2 separate regions of the Homo sapiens genome follow, and region 1 is linked to region 2. The links come from fine-mapping of genetic effects on gene expression. A gene starts in region 2. The other region holds a variant in brackets. All regions are shown on one strand. Distances are between the middles of the regions. Region 1 overlaps TAOK3 (TAO kinase 3). Region 2 holds the start of SUDS3 (SIN3A corepressor complex component SDS3).

The links.
Region 1: its variant is fine-mapped to the expression of SUDS3 in regulatory T cells (Bossini-Castillo 2019, PIP 0.95).

What each region holds. Positions count from the first base shown.
Region 1 is chr12:118,312,747-118,321,276 of GRCh38, reverse strand. All of the region lies in intron 1 of TAOK3 (TAO kinase 3), which reads left to right. Among named protein-coding and RNA genes, the nearest start is that of TAOK3, 56 kb to the left of the region's middle. The variant T/AT (reference allele first, on the strand shown) is at 3,979.
Region 2 is chr12:118,371,626-118,380,155 of GRCh38, reverse strand. It overlaps SUDS3 (SIN3A corepressor complex component SDS3), which reads right to left and starts at 3,601. Exons shown (of 12, transcript NM_022491.3): 1 at 3,323-3,601. The coding sequence starts at 3,464. It overlaps TAOK3 (TAO kinase 3), which reads left to right and starts at 7,249. Exons shown (of 21, transcript NM_016281.4): 1 at 7,249-7,508. LOC124903031 (a long non-coding RNA gene) reads left to right here and starts at 4,029. Exons shown (of 2, transcript XR_007063480.1): 1 at 4,029-4,200; 2 at 4,365-4,858. RefSeq lists silencers at 3,205-3,354, 3,385-3,604, 7,126-7,375, 8,160-8,219, 8,320-8,409 and enhancers at 3,046-3,546, 6,756-6,805.

The DNA of each region.
Region 1 (8,530 bases), 59 kb after region 2:
AAAAAATGTGTGTGTGTATGTTTGTGTGTGTGTGTGTGTATTTGCATGTATACATGTTAAACAACAGTGTTAAACAATATAGTAATATACAACTTAGAAAATAGATGCCCCCAAACAAATATAAAAGTTACAAACCATACCAACCTTTTCCCTAACATATAGCCACTATAAGCAGTTTGGGCATATTCTTCTAGATTTTTTCCATGATCTTTTTTAATGTTGTTTATATTATTAACATTATTTTAAAATGTAACACATTATGCATATACGTATGCACATTACGTGTTACTTAACAGTACTTTAGTAGGACTTCCTTCCTATAGATCTGCTTCTTGTTATATTAGCTACACATTAGTAAAGTGTGTAATTGTACCAATTCCTTTTTGATGGGCATTTGGGTTGTTTCCAAATGTTTTCTATTACAAACCATGCTGTAATTATCATTATAAATAGCAGTGTGATTCATTTTCAATTATTCTACTCTGACTCTAAAATATTCAGCTTGGGGACCCTCTTTTTTCACAAACTTCTAGCAGTGTAAAGTCTCTTTTAGTTTAAACAGCATTGTTTAAGCAGTTGTATAAAGCAGTGTGCTAACTGGAAGTCCTTTTTGTTTTTTGTTTCTTTAATAATAAAATAGCCCTGGTCTCAATAGCTTATAGTCTAGTGTGACTGGCCAGTATGTGTCCAATCAATCATAACTATTACTAATTATTTTGTTTGTAAAATGTTAGCAGTGGCTATAAACTGATACACTTATTTGCCTTGGGCTTTCAGCAGATTACCCAGAGATGTGTTGATAATCAAGTATATTATTGTTCAGTATCTTATTATATACTTTTTTTTTTTAAGAAATGATGTCTTGCTACGTTGTCCAGGCTTGTCTCAAATACCTGGGGCTCAAGCGATCCTCCCAACTCAGCCTCCCAAAGTGCTAGAGTTACAGGCAAGAGCCACCATACCCGGCTACTCGTAGAAACTTGTCATAAGGAAATAATTATGGGAACATCACTATCTATTTCCAGAACTTTTTCATCATCCCAAGCAGAAATTCTGTACCTATTAAGCACTTACTCCCCATTTCCCCCTCTCTGCCTAGGCCCTTATCTATTTTTCTGTCTGTATGAATTTTGCCTATTCTAAATATTTCATACAAGTGGAATCATATAATATTTGTCCTTTTTTGTCTGGCTTTTTTCACTTAGCACAATGGTTCATCCATGCTGTAACATCTATCAGTACTTCATTCCTTTTTATGGCTAAGTAATATTTTGCTGTATCTATATCCCACATTTTGTTCATCTGTGTATCTGTCTGCTGATGGACACTTCACGTTGTTTCCACCTTTTGGCTATTGTGAATAATGCTGGTATGAACATTGGCATACAAGTATCTGTTTGAGTCCCTCTTTTCAATTCTTTGGGGTATATAACTGGGAGTAGAGTTGCTGAGTCATGGTAATTCTATGTATAACTTTTTGAGGAGCTGTTCAACTGTTTTCCATAGAGGCTGCATCATTTTATATTCCCACCAGCAGTGTGCGAAAGGGTTCCAGTGTCTTCACATCCTCACCAACACTTGTTGTTTTCTGGTTTTTTTTTAATTATAATCATCTTAATGAGTATAAAATAATATCTCATCGTGGTTTTGCATTTCCCTAATAATTAATGATAAGCATTTTTTCATGTGTTTATTGGCCATTTGTACATCTTCTTTGAGTAAATGGCTATTCAAGTCCTTGACAATATTAAGTTTTCTAGTTCTCATTTCAAAATTGGGTCGTTTGTCTTTTTGTTGTTAAGTTATAGCAGTTCTTTATATGTTGTAGATTATTATCAGGTTTCTAATAAAACAATTTTAGATTATCTAAATTCTTATCAGGTTTATGATTTGCAAATATTTTCTCTGTCACTCTTGATAGCGTCCTTTGATACACATAAGTTCTGAATTTTAGTAAAGTCCAATTTATTTTTCTTTTGTTTCCTGTAAAAGCTTTTGGTGTCATTTTATTGTTGAGGGGTTTTTTGCTTTTAAAATATTTATTTTATAATTGACAAATGAAAAATTATATTTATGGTATACAATGTGATGTTTTGATATATGCATACATTGTAGAATGAATACATCAAGCTAGATAACATATCCATCACCAGATTTCAGCTGATAATTTGTATCTTCTGACCAATATTTCTCCAATTCCTCACCTCTCCAGCCCCTGGAAAGCACCATTGTATTCTCTGCTTCTGAGTTCTGTTTTTTTTCAGATACCACACATAAATGAGATCATACAACTTCTGTCTTTCTGTGCCTGCCTTATTTCATTGAGTGTAATGTTCTCTATGTTCATCCATGTTGTTGCAAATGACAGGATTTCCTTCTTTTTGAAGGCTGAATAGTATTCCATTGTGTACACATGCCACATTTTCCATTCACCCACTGACGGACACTTGGGTTGATTCCTTATCTTAGCTGTTGTGAATAATGTTGCAATGAACATGAAAAGTACATATCTCTTTCACATATTCATTTCATTTCCTTTGGATGTGTATCATTAGTGGGATTGCCAGGTCATATCGTAGTTCTAATTTTAATTTTTTGAGAAACCTCCATACTGCTTTCCATAATCACTGTGCTAATTTACATTCCCACTAACAGTGTACAAGGGTTCCCTTTTCTCTACATGCTCACCAACACTCAGTCTTTTGTCTTTTTGCTAAAAACTATTCTTACAGGTGTGAGGTGGTAGCTCCTTGTGGTTTTAATTAAGAAATCATTGCCAAATCCATGGTCATGCAGATTTGTCCCTATATTTAAGAGTTGTGGCCAGGCGCAGCGGCTCACACCTGTAATCCCAGCACTTTGGGAGGCTGAGGCAGGCAGATCACGAGGTCTAGAAATCGAGACCATCCTGGCCAACATGGTGAAACCCTGTCTTTACTAAAAATACAAAAATTAGCTGGGCGTGGTGGTGCGTTCCTGTAGTCCCAGCTACTTGGGAGGCTAAGGCAGGAGAATCGCTTGAACCCAGGAGGCGGAGGTTGCAGTGAGCCAAGATCGCGTCATTGCGCTCCAGCCTGGTGACAGAGCAAGACTCCATCTAAAAAAAAAAAAAAAAAAAGTTTTATAGCTTTATATCTTATTTAGGTCTCGGATCTATTCTGAGTTATTGTTTGTATATAGTATAAAGTAAGGGCCCAACTTCATTTTTTTGGCCTATGGATATCCAGTTATCCCAGTACCATTTGGTGAAAAGACTGACCTTTCCCTGTTGTCTTGGCACCCTTGTTGAAAATCAATTTGCTGTAGATATGAATGTTTATTTCTGGGCTGTCAGTTCTATTCCATTGGTCTATATATGTCTGTCCTTAGGCCAGTACTGCAGTGTTTTGATTACTGAGCTTTGTAATAAGCTGCAGGAAATGTGAGTCCTCCAACTGGTTTTTGTTTTTTTTGTTTGTTTGTCTTTTTTAGATTATTTTTGCTATTCTGGGTCCTTTGAAATCATATGGATTTTAGGACAGGTTTTTCCATTTCTGTACAAAACACCATTGGGATTTTGATACAAATTGTATTGGATCTGTATATTGTTTGGAGTCATATTGTCACCTTGACAATATTAAGTTTTCTAGCTCCTGAACACATAATGTCTTTCTATTTATTTAGGTCTTTAAAAATTTCTGGCTGGGTGCAGTAATCCCACACCTGTAATCCTAGCACTTTGGGAGGCCGAGGCAGGTGGATCACGAGGTCAGGAGATCGAGACCATCCTGGCTAACACGGTGAAACCCGTCTCTACTAAAAATACAAAAAATTAGCTTGGCGTGGTGGCAGGCGCCTGTAGTCCCAGCTACTCTGGAGGCTGAGGCAGGAGAATGGCGTGAACCCAGAAGGCGGAGCTTGTAGTGAGCCAAGATCGCGCCACTGCACTCCAGCCTGGGCAACAGAGCAAGACTGTCTAAAAAAAAAAAAAAAAAAAAA[T/AT]TCTCCCAGCGATTTTTTTTTTTTTTTTTTTTTGAGACAAACTTTCACTTCGTTGCCCAGGCCAGAGTGTAGTGGCACAATAATCTCGGCTCACTGCAACTTCTGCCTCACAGTTTCGAGCAATTCTCCTGCCTCAGCCTCCCAAGTAGCTGGAGTTACAGGCGTGCACCACCACACCCAGCTAATTTTTGTATTTTTAATAGAGACGGGGCTTCGCCATGTTGGCCAGGCTGGTCTCGAACTCCTGAGCTCAAGCAATCCACCCACCTTGGCCTCCCAAATGCTGAGATTACAGGCGTGAGCCACCGTGCCCAGCCCCAGCAATGTTTTGTAGTTTTCATTGTTCATGTTTTTATGCTTCCTTGGTTAAATTTATTCCAAGGAGGAATAATTGAAGTATTCTTTTTGCTCTTATTATAGATTGTTTTCTTAATTTCCTTTTCAGATTGTTCATTGCCAGTATATAGAAATACAACTGATTTTGTTATTTTTATACCCTGGAACTTTGCTAAATTTATTTAATAGCTCTAGTAGTTTGTAGATGTGAGTTATTTAGGGTTTTCTGGATATAAGATCATGTCATTGGCCAGCCACGATGGCTCATGCCTGTAATCCTGGCACTTTGGGAGGCCGAACCAGGAGGATTGCTTGAGCCAGAAGTTCAAGACCAGCCTGGACAAAATTGTAAGAGCTTGTCTTTATTAACAATCAAAAAAAAAAAGAGAGAGAATCTAGCCAGGCAGGGTGGTACACGACTGTGTTCCCAGCTACTCAGGAGGCTGAGGGTAGGATGCTGCAGTGATCCGAGATTGCACAACTGCACTCCAGCCTGGATGACAGAGCGAGACCCCACCTCTAAGAGAGAGTAAAAAAAAAATGATGTCCTTGAGGCAAAATATTTTTTTACCATCCTATCTTTTATGAATCAGACCAAAGAAAATAATGTATGCCAAATGAGTAGGAGCTCTTTCAGTAGGACAGTATGTAAGCTAGTATATTTAACCAGACTCTTATGAGTAGCAGGTATGCTGCAGTTAAAGGGAAGTTAAAAGGTAAGATTTACATTAACAAATCCATGATCATTAGGCCATTTTTTAGATTCCTTTTCTTGAACATTTTTAAACCAGACACTGCACATAAATTTATTTAAGAAGGCAGAAACACCCATTATTAGGAATAAATTGAAGGGAGATGTAAGAAATCAAATAATTAGAGGCAGTCTCTAAGTCACATGTGCATGATGTCTCATTACATTCCCCTTGGGATCTTGGCATCAGTACCTCCTAATAACCTCCCTACTCCTTTTTCCATTGTAAAAATATCCCAGCAGCAACCAAGCTGTCTTGAGTCCATACCATTACCTCACAGTGAGCCTGGAAAACTATCTGATCCAAAATTCACAGTCTCCTTTATTTACTATCTGTTTCAATTTTCCTTTGTCATTTATACTTGCATTTGCCTCCTTTTACCCTAACCAATTTTTTTCTCTCATGTGCATATATGTATTCCCTCTTTCCCAACACTGTCATAATTACTTCAAATAATTATTCAATCCTATCACTTTCATTTTTAGATTTTCCTTTTTGGGGGGAGGAGGATTATTTTCTTTTTAAAAATGTTAACAAAATATTTCAAACTTGCAGAATATAACCAATATCCATGATCCTATCTCTCAGAATTAATTTTTTAAAGAAATAAAAACATATATTTGGAGTCTCCTTTGTACTTCTTTCCAATTCCATTCTTTTCCATCCACCCCAAATCCATCTACTCTCCTGAAGGTGGTGCATATTATTCTTTTTACCATTTGTACTCTTATTTATGTGTGCTACAAACAATACATTTTTGTGGGTTTTAACATTTGCATAAATTTGAATATATCCTGCATATGATTCTTCAACTTGGTTTTTCCTTTATTGTGTTTTGGAAATGTGTCTATATTGATAAATTTATATTTAGCTCATTGATTTAAACTACAACATGGCATTACATCACATGATTATATCAGTTATCCTTTTCCCCACCGATGGATGTTTAATACATTACTCATTTTTTACCATTATGAAAAATTTTCTGCTGGGTGTGGTGGCTCACGCCTGTAATCCCAGCACTTTGGGAGTCCAAGGCGGGCAGATCACTTGAGGTCAGGAGTTCACCATGACCAACATGGTGAAACCCCATCTCTACTAAAAGTATAAAAGTTAGCCAGGGGTGGTGGCACATGCCTGTAATCCCAGCTAGTCGGGAGGCTGAGACAGGAGAATTGCTTGTATGTGGGAGGCGGAGGTTGCAGCCAGCTTAGATCTTGCCACTGCACGCACTCACTCCAGCCGGGGCCATAGAGTGAGACTACATCTTAAAAAAAAAAAAGAAAAAGAAAAAGAAACAAAAACTCCTTCATGTGCCCATGCAATAGTCATGCGCATCTTCAACTTCACTAGATAGTGCTAAATTATGCTGATAAAATGGTTGTAGTAATTTTTTTCACCTTATTCTGAGCAAAAACCTGGTCTTGATAATAATTGATAAGCATTGTTATGGTGGAAAAGATACAGGATGGGATATCAGCTCCGGAACTAATTAGTTGGATAACTTATGTCAGGTTAGTCCATCCATATGAGTCTCAATTTCTCCATCTCCAAATTAAGGTCAGATTGAATATGATCTCTGAAGTCTTTTCCAACCTTGGATGTTCTGTGGTTTTAGTGCTAATGATTTATTGTATTTCAAGAGAAATAAGAGTCATACATTTTAAAATCACATTAGATCTAATAAAGAACTAATGTCACTAGTTCCCAAAATCCTCAAGTAATCCAAAAGTTAAGTTCAGGATATCCTCAAGTCTCCATTTACCATGTCATTTTTATGCACTCCATCTTAATTCACGATATTGTTTTAGAGTTATTACTCAATATTTTTTGATTTGCATAATTAGTTGTATCTCAATAGTATTTTTAAAAGATATTTTAAAATGCAAAATAAGATATTGAATTTGCTTTAGGGACAAACCCTTTGTGGACAAACCTGAAAACCTAAATTCCATATGAAACATTGATTTTGGGTAAAAACATATTCAGAGTTACAGATACTTAGCTTAGAAGTGAACTTTTGGGACCCAACTCTTTTGCAAGTTGGAGGCTTCCTGTAACGTTAATTTCAGGAAATCCTAGGCAAATATGCAGTTACTGTTCTAGAAGATACATAGGTAGTGTGTACTGTGATGGAAATTAAAATGTCACTGTTAAAAGGTTTGCATTTTGTGGGCTTGGAAGGGCCTAAAACTTCCTTCTTAGGCTTTCTCTTCACTAGTGGGCTCTTGCATTATATTACTTCCAGAGAAAGGCAGGCAGGATTAGAGGCATGGCAAGGAGAACAATTTGAGAAATACTATACTGTGCAAAAGAGCAAAGACAACTTTAATGGCAATGAGGATAAATTAACTTCTTTGACTCAGTCGCCAAGTAAGATAAATCCATAATTACTTATTCCAGTTTGATTTTTACATAAGAAGTTCTTCTGGTTATTCTTTAATATAGATTTGATTTTCTTTTCCCTAAATTTTAGCCTTAGATTACTGGACAGTTTAGTCATTTCTGTAATGTAAAAGCTTACTATTCAAGTGTCTGATACAACCTTACCATGAGGTTACTTTTGACAAAATAAAACCCTTTTAAATATTAGAGGGTCCCAGTCTTAGTTGAAGTTATAAGAAACAGCCTTTCTCAGCCTATGCGGTGGCTACGCCTGTAATCTTAGCATTTTGGGAGGCTGAAACAGGTGGATCACCTGAGGTCAGGAGTTTGAGACCAGCCTGGCCAATGTGGTGAAACCTCATTTCTACTAAAAATACAAAAATTAGCCAAGTGTGGTGGCAGATGCCTGTAATCCCAGCTACTTGGGAGGCTGAGGCAGGAGAATCACTTGAACCCAGGAGGCGGAGGTTGCAGTGAGCCAAGATCATGCCATTGCACTCCAGCCTGGACAACAGAGCAAAAACTCGGTCTCAAAAAAAAAGATAAAATAAAATAAAAAATAAAAAAGAAGAGAAAAGAAAAGAAACAGCCATTCTCTTTCCTTGTAATAGAGCTGAAAATGTCTGTCTTCTGTAATGTCTTGCCTGACTGTCCTACTAGGATCTAGCATTATCTCTAGTTGGATAGCTGTCTCTTTATATATGATTTTTAAATTTTCAGTTTTTAAAGATTTCATTTTGTTTGCTTTTAACTCTTTTAAAATAGCTATTTAGCCTCTTTTCTGCATTTTTCCGTCTTTAGTGTTAGGGATTTTGGGTTCAGTTTTATTTTCACTCCAGATTTTAATACAGGGCTCAGCAGAATAGAGCCTCACCAGCAGATAAGCATTTTTGATTGATGGAATTCACATCTGTTATGTTTCCCCAAATTTATTTTTTTCTCCACAGTCTTTCAACACTCATTATAGTTTTGTTGTGTTAGATCATGATACTACAGGCCTCTAGTTAAGATCGGTGTTACTCAGTAGCCAAAAATAATGTCAGAGTGCAAGGTAGTGACAAAACCTGTTAAAGACAAAC
Region 2 (8,530 bases):
AAAGTTAGGAAATAGGGGCTAGTTAAAATCATAATTCACGGAGTTGGCGTCACCTGACACAGAGTATGCACTCAATAAACTCCCGTAAAATCAATTTCTATTCAAGGCAGGCTTGCACAAAGCCATCAATGAAAAACATTACATACAGTTAGTAGGCCATCCCTATCTGCAAACACGAAACCTGTGGACACAAAAGGCCAATGCAAAGAATTTGAGTATCCTCAGGTTGTAGTATCCATGAAGTCCTGGAACCAGTCCCCCATAGATACCGAGGGACAGCCGTACTTCAGAAAAGAAAAGGCCATTTCCAACTTACAGTCAGATTTATGCAAAAAGCTTGCCTTTACCTGAAATGCAGCCACAGAATAGGGTGTCTCAGGCACAGGCAGTTATGGTGAAGGCTGCTACTTCTGCAGAAACAACAATGCTGGCAACTCAAGAAAGGAGATGCAGGCGTAAGACTGGACACTGCAGGCAGTCAAGCCTTACTCGCTGCTCCAGAAAAAAACTAGTATGTACATTCTCTTCTGATACATACCCAGTTGGAACCCTTCGCACATTTTACATCAGGATACACGGTTGTCCCTCAGTATCCGTGGGGGAGTGGTTACTGCACCTCCCGTGGATACCAAAATCCTCAGCTGCTCAAGTCTCTGACAAAATGGCATAGTATTTGCATATAACCTACGCACATCTTCCAGTATACTTTTCTTTTTAATGAGACACAGTCTCACTCTGTCGCCCAGGCTGGAGTGCAGTGGCACAATCTCGGCTCACTGCAACCTCCACCTCCTGGGTTCAAGCGATTCTCCTGCCTCAGCTTCCCAAATAGCTGGGATTACAGGGGTGCACCACCACACCCGGCTACTTTTTGTATTTTTAGTAGAGATGAGGTTTCGCCACGTTGGCCAGGCTGGTCTCGAACTCCTGGCCTCAAGTGAACCACCTGCTTTCGCATTCCAAAGTGCTGGGATTACAGGCATGAGCCACTGCACCAGGCCAACAGTACACTTTAAATCATCTCTAGATTACTTAGAATATCCAGGCCAGGCATGGCAGCTCATGTCTGTAATCCCAGCACTTTGGAAGGCCAAAGCAGGAGAATCACCTGAGGACAGGAGTTCCAGACCAGCCTGGCCAACGTGGTGAAACCCCATCTCTACTAAAAACACAAAAATTAGGGCCAGGTGCAGTGGCTCACGCCTGTAATCCCAGCACTTTGGGAGGCAAAGGCAGGTGGATCACCTGAGGTCGGGAGTTCGAGACCAGCCTGACCAGCATGGAGAAACCACGTCTCTACTAAAAATACAAAATTAGCTGGGGGTGGCGGCACATGCCTGTAATCCCAGCTACTCAGGAGGCTGAGGCAGGAGAATTGCTTGAACTCGGGAGGCAGAGGTTGTGGTGAGCCGAGATCGCGCCATTGCACTCCACCCTGGGCAACAAGAGTGAAACTCCATCTCAAAAAAAAATAAAATAAACAAAACAACAAATAAAACCACAAAAATTAGCCAGGCATGGTGGCAGGTGCCAGTAATCCCAACTACTCCGGAGACTGAGGCAGGAGAACTGCTTGAACCCAGGAGATGGAAGTTGCAGTGAGCTGAGATCGTGACACTGCACACCAGCCTGGGTGAGTGAGTGAGACCCCATCTTAAAAAAAAAAAAAAAAAGATTACTTACAATATCCAATAAAATGTAAATACTATGTAAGTAGTTGTTACGCTACACTGTTTAGGAATAACAAAAAAAAAGTCTGCACATGTTCAGTACAGATCCAATTTTTTTCCTGAATATTTTTGAGCTGCGCTTGGTTGAATTCACAGATGCAGAACCCACAGATACGCAGAGCCAACTGTATACAATAAAAAAGGGGAATCTGACACAAATAAATATTTTCCAAGTTACAACTAAAGGGAACAAGGAGGAGGCCAGATGATCAAACGAAAACTGTTTCAGAACATCTTAAACATTGTTCTTAGAACAAGCTAATGGCTGGGGTGTGTACAAAATTTTAATAGCCCCTATACTGGAAGGAAAAAAAAACTCAATTTTGGCTCCACAGCGCCCCCTCGTGGGTATGAGATGAAGTGCAAGTGCTTCACATTCAAAATCTCTGGTTAAGCCGTGTCTTCTGATGGAATTAAATCGAATGCAGTCCCTCAACTTTGTATGTCATGCATATGCAGCTGTCTTTTGTAAGGCTGTTGCAGATCCAATTCCCCACAAACCCTTCTCCCCTCCTTCAGTCAAGAGGCCTTCCCTGAGTTCCTGTCATGGTCAGCCACATTACTTGGCACTCGGGAAACTCAGATGAATAAAACGTAGGCCCCATTCCAAACAGCTGGTCTAGCTTTTGCTCCACGGCCCGATTTTGTCCCAGAATATTCCGCTCATATATCGGTCTCTCTTTGTTTCCTATTTCTCCTCCCTTGATCTCTCACATTTCATCACCTTCCTCCTCCTCCATCCCTCCAAAATAGCGTTCCTCACACTTGCCAAATTATAAAGCCCAGTTTGAAAAGCAAGGCTCTGAGACTCTGTGATGACAGTGCAAAGAGCGTGGGACTGAAAACACAACACCTGGGGACCATTAAGCAAATCTCTCCCTCTCTTACCTGTTTCCGGGAGGGGGGCGGGTGGGGAGAACATTTACGGAGTATTTACAGTACCAGGCCAAGTACTTTATGCGCATGTCATTTAATCCCTATACCGACCCTAGGAAGTGCCTTCTAGGGCAGGTGTGGGAATTAAACAGCTCCATTACAGTTGGGTAAATCGAGGCTGGAAAACTTAAGTTTACAAAGCTGAGTTAAGTGACAAAGCCAAATTTAAACCTGTATCTGGCTGGTTCTAGGTCCCTTTCCTTTAACCAACCTGAGTTCTCAATAGTGTACTACCTAAAGTATAGATGACTTATGCATTTCGGGGGTGGGGAGGGGCAACTTTGGACTCTGATGCTCTCACACACAAAAAAGGGGCGAACTACACTCGATGTATTCAGTAAATGAGTTTCTAATTCCTACTAGTGAGTGAGGTTCAATCAGAAACGGCTGGGAGGGAGGACGGGGTCTTAAAGGGACCCCCAGCGTGACAACATCTAAGTCCCCTCTCCCCATCACGGTCGAGTGTAACGCACCCAGGGCTTCCCCGCTACTCCAGCACGGATGGGGGTAACTTCCCCGAGCCCCGCAACTCCCGGCGGCCCCTCCACGCAGCCCCAGGCCCCGGAGGCCGCCCCGCCCCTCTCCCGAACAGCCCCACCCCCTCCCCCAGCGGTCCCACCTCCGCTCCGGGCGGCCGGGCGAGCGGCAGGACTCACCTTCGTCCGACTCGCGGCCCCGACAGCTGCGCTCGTCGTCCTCGGCGCTCTCCAGCTCTTCATCCTCCTCGGGGTAGTACTCGGGGGCCGGCGGCGCTCCAGCCTGGGCCGGGGCCGGGGCCAGCAGCCCCGCGGCACTCATGTCGCCTCTGACCGCAGCTGAGCGTGGCCCACGGACACCGCGGCCACCCGCGCTCGGTACTCGCCGTCTGCCTAGCAGTGTCCGCGGCAGCCCCCAACTCGAGGACCGGCAGCCACGGCGACCCCTTCCCCGTCTCCGCCGAGCTCCGCCCCCCGCGCCCGCGCTCGGCAACGGGGGCCTCGCGCCGCGAGCGACTTCCGGGTCGAGAGCTGCCCGACAACGGCCTGATTCCGCCATCCTTGGGGGAGTGGAGATGCCGCTGGACGCCCCCGTCGCCACAACCTCAGCCCTTTCATCGCCGTCTTAAAATCCTCAACGTATAGTGGGGGAGGGGCGGAGCCAGGTTCGCTAGAGTCAGGCAAATCTACGGGCAGGCCCAGCAGCGGTCAGGACCCCGAGGCTCGCAGGCGACTTCCGGAGACAGCCGCCAGGCGGCGCCTGGAGCTAGAACTAAAGCGGTGATCGTTAGCGACCTAGGGGCGGAGGGTTTGAAGGGCCCTTGGCAGGTGGAGGTGGTCTCTAATTTAAGCAGGGAACGACGCGACCTGCCCCCTTATTAGGTCGGAAAACCTAGACGTCCAGAGTGTGCGTGATCATGCAGCCTGGCTCCTCCTGTGACTAGTTAGAGCTTTATTAAGAGCTAAAAGACAAGGATGCTGATATTCCATCCTGGGGACAGCAAAATAGTATTTTCCCAGCCCTTAGGAATCCTTTCTGTTTGTGTAAGGTTTATTCGGTAAGATGTTCCCCCGGTTTTACAAATGAGAAACGAGCTGTCGTTTGCCTAAAAAAAAATAGTAACGTCCAGTCTGATTTTTTAGACTCCGAGACCCAGGCCCTCCGCGGTACAGCTGCCTTGAATATTAATTTTTTAAAAGGTGCTTTTGCTTAATCCAACAGCTTGCTCTGAGCTCTCAACTGAAGAAGGGGAGAATTTGCCTACCAGAAGTTATTTGGCTAAGGCCCACGTGGAAGCTTAAAAAACAGGAGAGCTGAGTATCTGCAAGAATTAATTTGTGCGATTCCCTCTGAGTAGAAAAGGAACACGGTGTTATAAGTTTTGCTGAACGAATAGATTTAAGGTGTCCCTTTAGCTAAGAGCAATGTGGTCTAGTTGTGTGTAGCGAGAAAAAAGGGTAAGGTTTTTAATGGTTTGTCCAAAGTAGCCCCACTTTTATGTTCCACCCGAGTCTCCGTAGGAAACGCAACCAGTAGTGAAAATGAACAGATGTGAAAACCAGGGTGGAACCGAATATTCCCATTCTCAGACCTTTTGTGATTAAATTTATCTCTGAATTGTTCCCTATGGACTCTTCTGAAAATGAAACGTTATTCTCATCCCACTTATTTTGACATTTATTTACTACCTTGTTTTAATTAAAATCTTGGCTCTATTTGTAAGTGATTTTTTCTCCCAACAAAACTAAAGAATTTCCAGAATGGAATGCTAAGATGTCTTTCCAGGAGTTCTGAGATCTTCTGAAGCCCCTTCTAAATAAGAATCATTCTCAGATCGCACCGTAGGTCTGCCATCTATATTTAAACTAGGATTCCAGAACTGTCTCTTGTCCAAAAGATGAAGTCATTTTCTTTCTTTGTGCTGTTGGAGAACATCTAAATTACTTGCAATCAACTATATTGAGTAACTTGCGTTCCTGTCAGTAGCAGTAATCATAGTGCAGAAAAAGCAAAGATTTTAGAAATCAAGAGTTCATTGATACAATTAATTTTTAAGTTTATTTCGTTGCTAAATGGTTTCCTTTCAAGACGCTGAGATTTTTATCCTGCTTATGTTTTACTGCTGTCTTCTTGACTGCAAACAGCATCTGTTAATGGTCATGCATTTCTTTTTTATATGTAATGAATAGACACAACTGAGCACTTGGGTTATGAAAACTTACCCCATTTTTTTCTGTCCAGATTGCCAGCTGCAGAACTAAAAAATGCTCTTTAGTGAAGGTGGACCTACTCAAAAAAATTCTCTTATGGCTTTAGTCTTACCTAACCTTTAGATTTATTTAATATGATTTTGGACAGTCGCTATACTCCTGTAAAAATCAAGTTCCCTCAAAACCAAGTTTTACCACCTTGAAATCTTTTTATATATCCCTTCTCAAAACGGTACTCAGCCACACCGCTCAGGAACTCGACTTGACTTGAAACGAAGCCCTGCCAGCCCCATTTCCACAACTTCTTTGCTTCCAGGCCTTCTCTGCCTACCCTAACACCCAAACTGAAACTTTAAAGGGGGACATCACAATTGGAATGGAGTATGATTCTTTTTTTTCTTTTTCTTTTTTTCTTTTTTTGAGACGGAGTTTTGCTCTTTCACCCAGGCTGGAGTGAAGTGATGCGATCTCGACTCACTGCAACCTCCGCCTCCGGGTTCAAGTGATTCTCCTGCCTCAGCCTTTCTAGTAGCTGGGATTACAGGTGGGTGCCACCATGCCCGGCTAATTTTTGTATTTTTCGTACAGACGGGATTTCACCATGTTGGCCAGGCAGGTCTGGAACCCTTGACCTCAGGTGATGAATGGCGTATGATTCTTAAAACACTAGAAGAAACATGTATACTGTTTAGAACACAAACACATTTTGTCAGCTGGAGTTAAAAAGTTAACAATCGAGGGTTCTCTGAGAACTAAGGCCTGTATACATCTGACAAAACTTAGGATCAAAATGTGTTCCTGAGACAATTTCTTCATAAAATGCTAAATTCTAAAGTCCATAAACTTACTTTTGGCGTTAAGAGTAAGGAAAGCAGTTTTCTGTTTCCGGTGTTGATTTGATCAGCATATCCAGTTTCACAAAAATAACACAAATGGGTCTTAGTAGCATGATGCACTTTCACCCCTGGCAGGCACTATCCTTTAGCGTGGATCAAGAGGAGTCTCTGATTATCACATGTTAAACCTGGGTCAAAGCTCGTTATCCTTTGGCCACACGTTCACATAGAATCATTAAAACCTGTGGCCCTGGAAAAAGGTTATATTGAATAGCTTTGCTGAAACCTTGTTAAGCTAATAATAGGGTTCCCCTACCACAGTCTTCCTACTGTCATAAAAACCTACAAACTGAAAATTTCTAAAGCTTTGTCCTTGCACCTATCAAAATGTGCCCCGCATTGAACGCTTAGTTGGGCAAAGTATGCACCTAGTACTGTATATAGATTTTTTTTCCCCCAACGGTATCAAACTGACGGCTGCTGAACTCAATTCAAGGAGAGGCAACTCCCTTGCAAGAGATTTTAAAAAGAAATGGTTTAAATCCAGGAAATTTTTACAAATCCTGGGCAAATTAATGCTATATTAGTTCATGGCAGAATTACTAAGAAAGCTGTGCAAGGTCTAGCGAGAGACTGGGGTCCTCCCCAAAGGCTCTAACATGGTGGTCCCTGGGAATCTCCCAAGAAAAGTAAAGGCGTGGGGAGAAGCGCCATGAACTTTGACCGGAGAGCAGCACAAACAAGACTGACCGCACCCCAGGCGGGCCCGTAGGTTACTAAAGTTGCAAGGTCTTCCGCGTCTGAGGAGACCCCGCCCTGCCCTGTCCCGCCCATCGACAACTCCGCCAATCCTCGGGTTCCATCGACCGCTCGGCTTCCCAGGCTCCATCAATCAAATACCTATATACGGCCCCGGCCCTGTGCCCCGCGATCAGGGAAGGTCAGTAGAGAGCCTATTGGAGCCGAGCTTGGGGCGTGGTCCGGGGCAGGGGGCGGGCGGACTGAGACGGTGGGGCGGGGCGTGCTCGGCGCAGTCCGGTGCGATTGGCCACCCCTGGCAGGAGCCGCACCTCGGACAGCAGCAGCGGCGGCGGCCGCGGGAGGGTCCTTGTGGCGCCGGGCGGCGGGGTCCTGCGTGGAGAGTGGGACGCAACGCCGAGACCGCGAGCAGAGGCTGCGCACAGCCGGATCCGGCACTCAGCGACCGGACCCAAGGATCCGCCGGGGAACAAGCCACAGGAGAGCGACTCAGGAACAAGTGTGGGAGAGGAAGCGGCGGCGGCGGCGCCGGGCCCGGGGGTGGTGACAGCAGGTCTGAGGTGAGAGCACCGGGGCGCGGGGCATGACAGTGGGAGCCGAGGCGGCGGGACCCCAGGCAGAGTGAGGGGAGTTGCGGGAGCGGGCTCGACAGTGCAGACTGTGGAGAGGAGACCCCGGGAGGGACCGGGACAGCGGGTGAGGAGAGGGGACTCCGAGAGGGACCGAGGCAGTGGCTCTGAGTGGAGAGGACTCCGAGAGGGTCCAAGACTGAAAGTCTGAGGGGAGGGGTCTCCAAGAGGGGCCGGGACAGTGCGCGTGAGAGGAAGGGACCCGGAGAGGGGCTGGGGTAGTGGGGTGAGGGGTGGGTGCCTCATGAGGCACTAGGATAGGGGGATGAGGGGAGGGGGTCCCCTGAAGGACCAGGTCCCAGAAAAGGTCAGGGACAGCGGGGAGAGGGGAAGGGTCCCCGAGAGGGGCCGGCACTGAGAGTCTGAGAGATGGGGACCCCGAGAGGGGCTGGGACAGCACCCGGGGAGAGGAGACCCCGAGGTGAGGGGAGGGGACCCAGAGAGAATCCAGGACAGAGTAAAGAGAGGGGACCGGTCAGGGGATGTGAAGACAGGGGATCCCCAGAGGGCTTAGAACAGAGTGTGAGAAGACCCCAGGAAGGGCCAAGACAGTGGGAGAAGAGGAGGGGTCCCGGAAGGGGGCTGGGCTGAGACAGCGGGGCTGAGAGCAGGACACCTAGAGAGAGGCCGGGACAGCGGGTGGGAGCAGGGTGACCCCGAGAGGGGCCAGGACAGCGGGGTGAGAGGAGGGGACCCCCAGAGGGCTCGGGACAGCGCATGCGAGCGTGGGACTCCGAGAGGGGCTTTGAGCGTCGGGTGCAGGCGCGGACCCCGAGGGAGGAGCGGTGCCCCATGGGTGCGGGTCGGGCCCCCAGTCACATAGCGGGGGCCCGGCGTGAGCAGCGAGGGAGCGGGCGGGGGGTCGCGCCCGCTGAGTTGCGGGAGCCCCCCCAAGAACGGCTGCGGCGGGGAGCCTGGGTCGCAGTCGCGGCGTCGGGCAAATAGGAACCGGC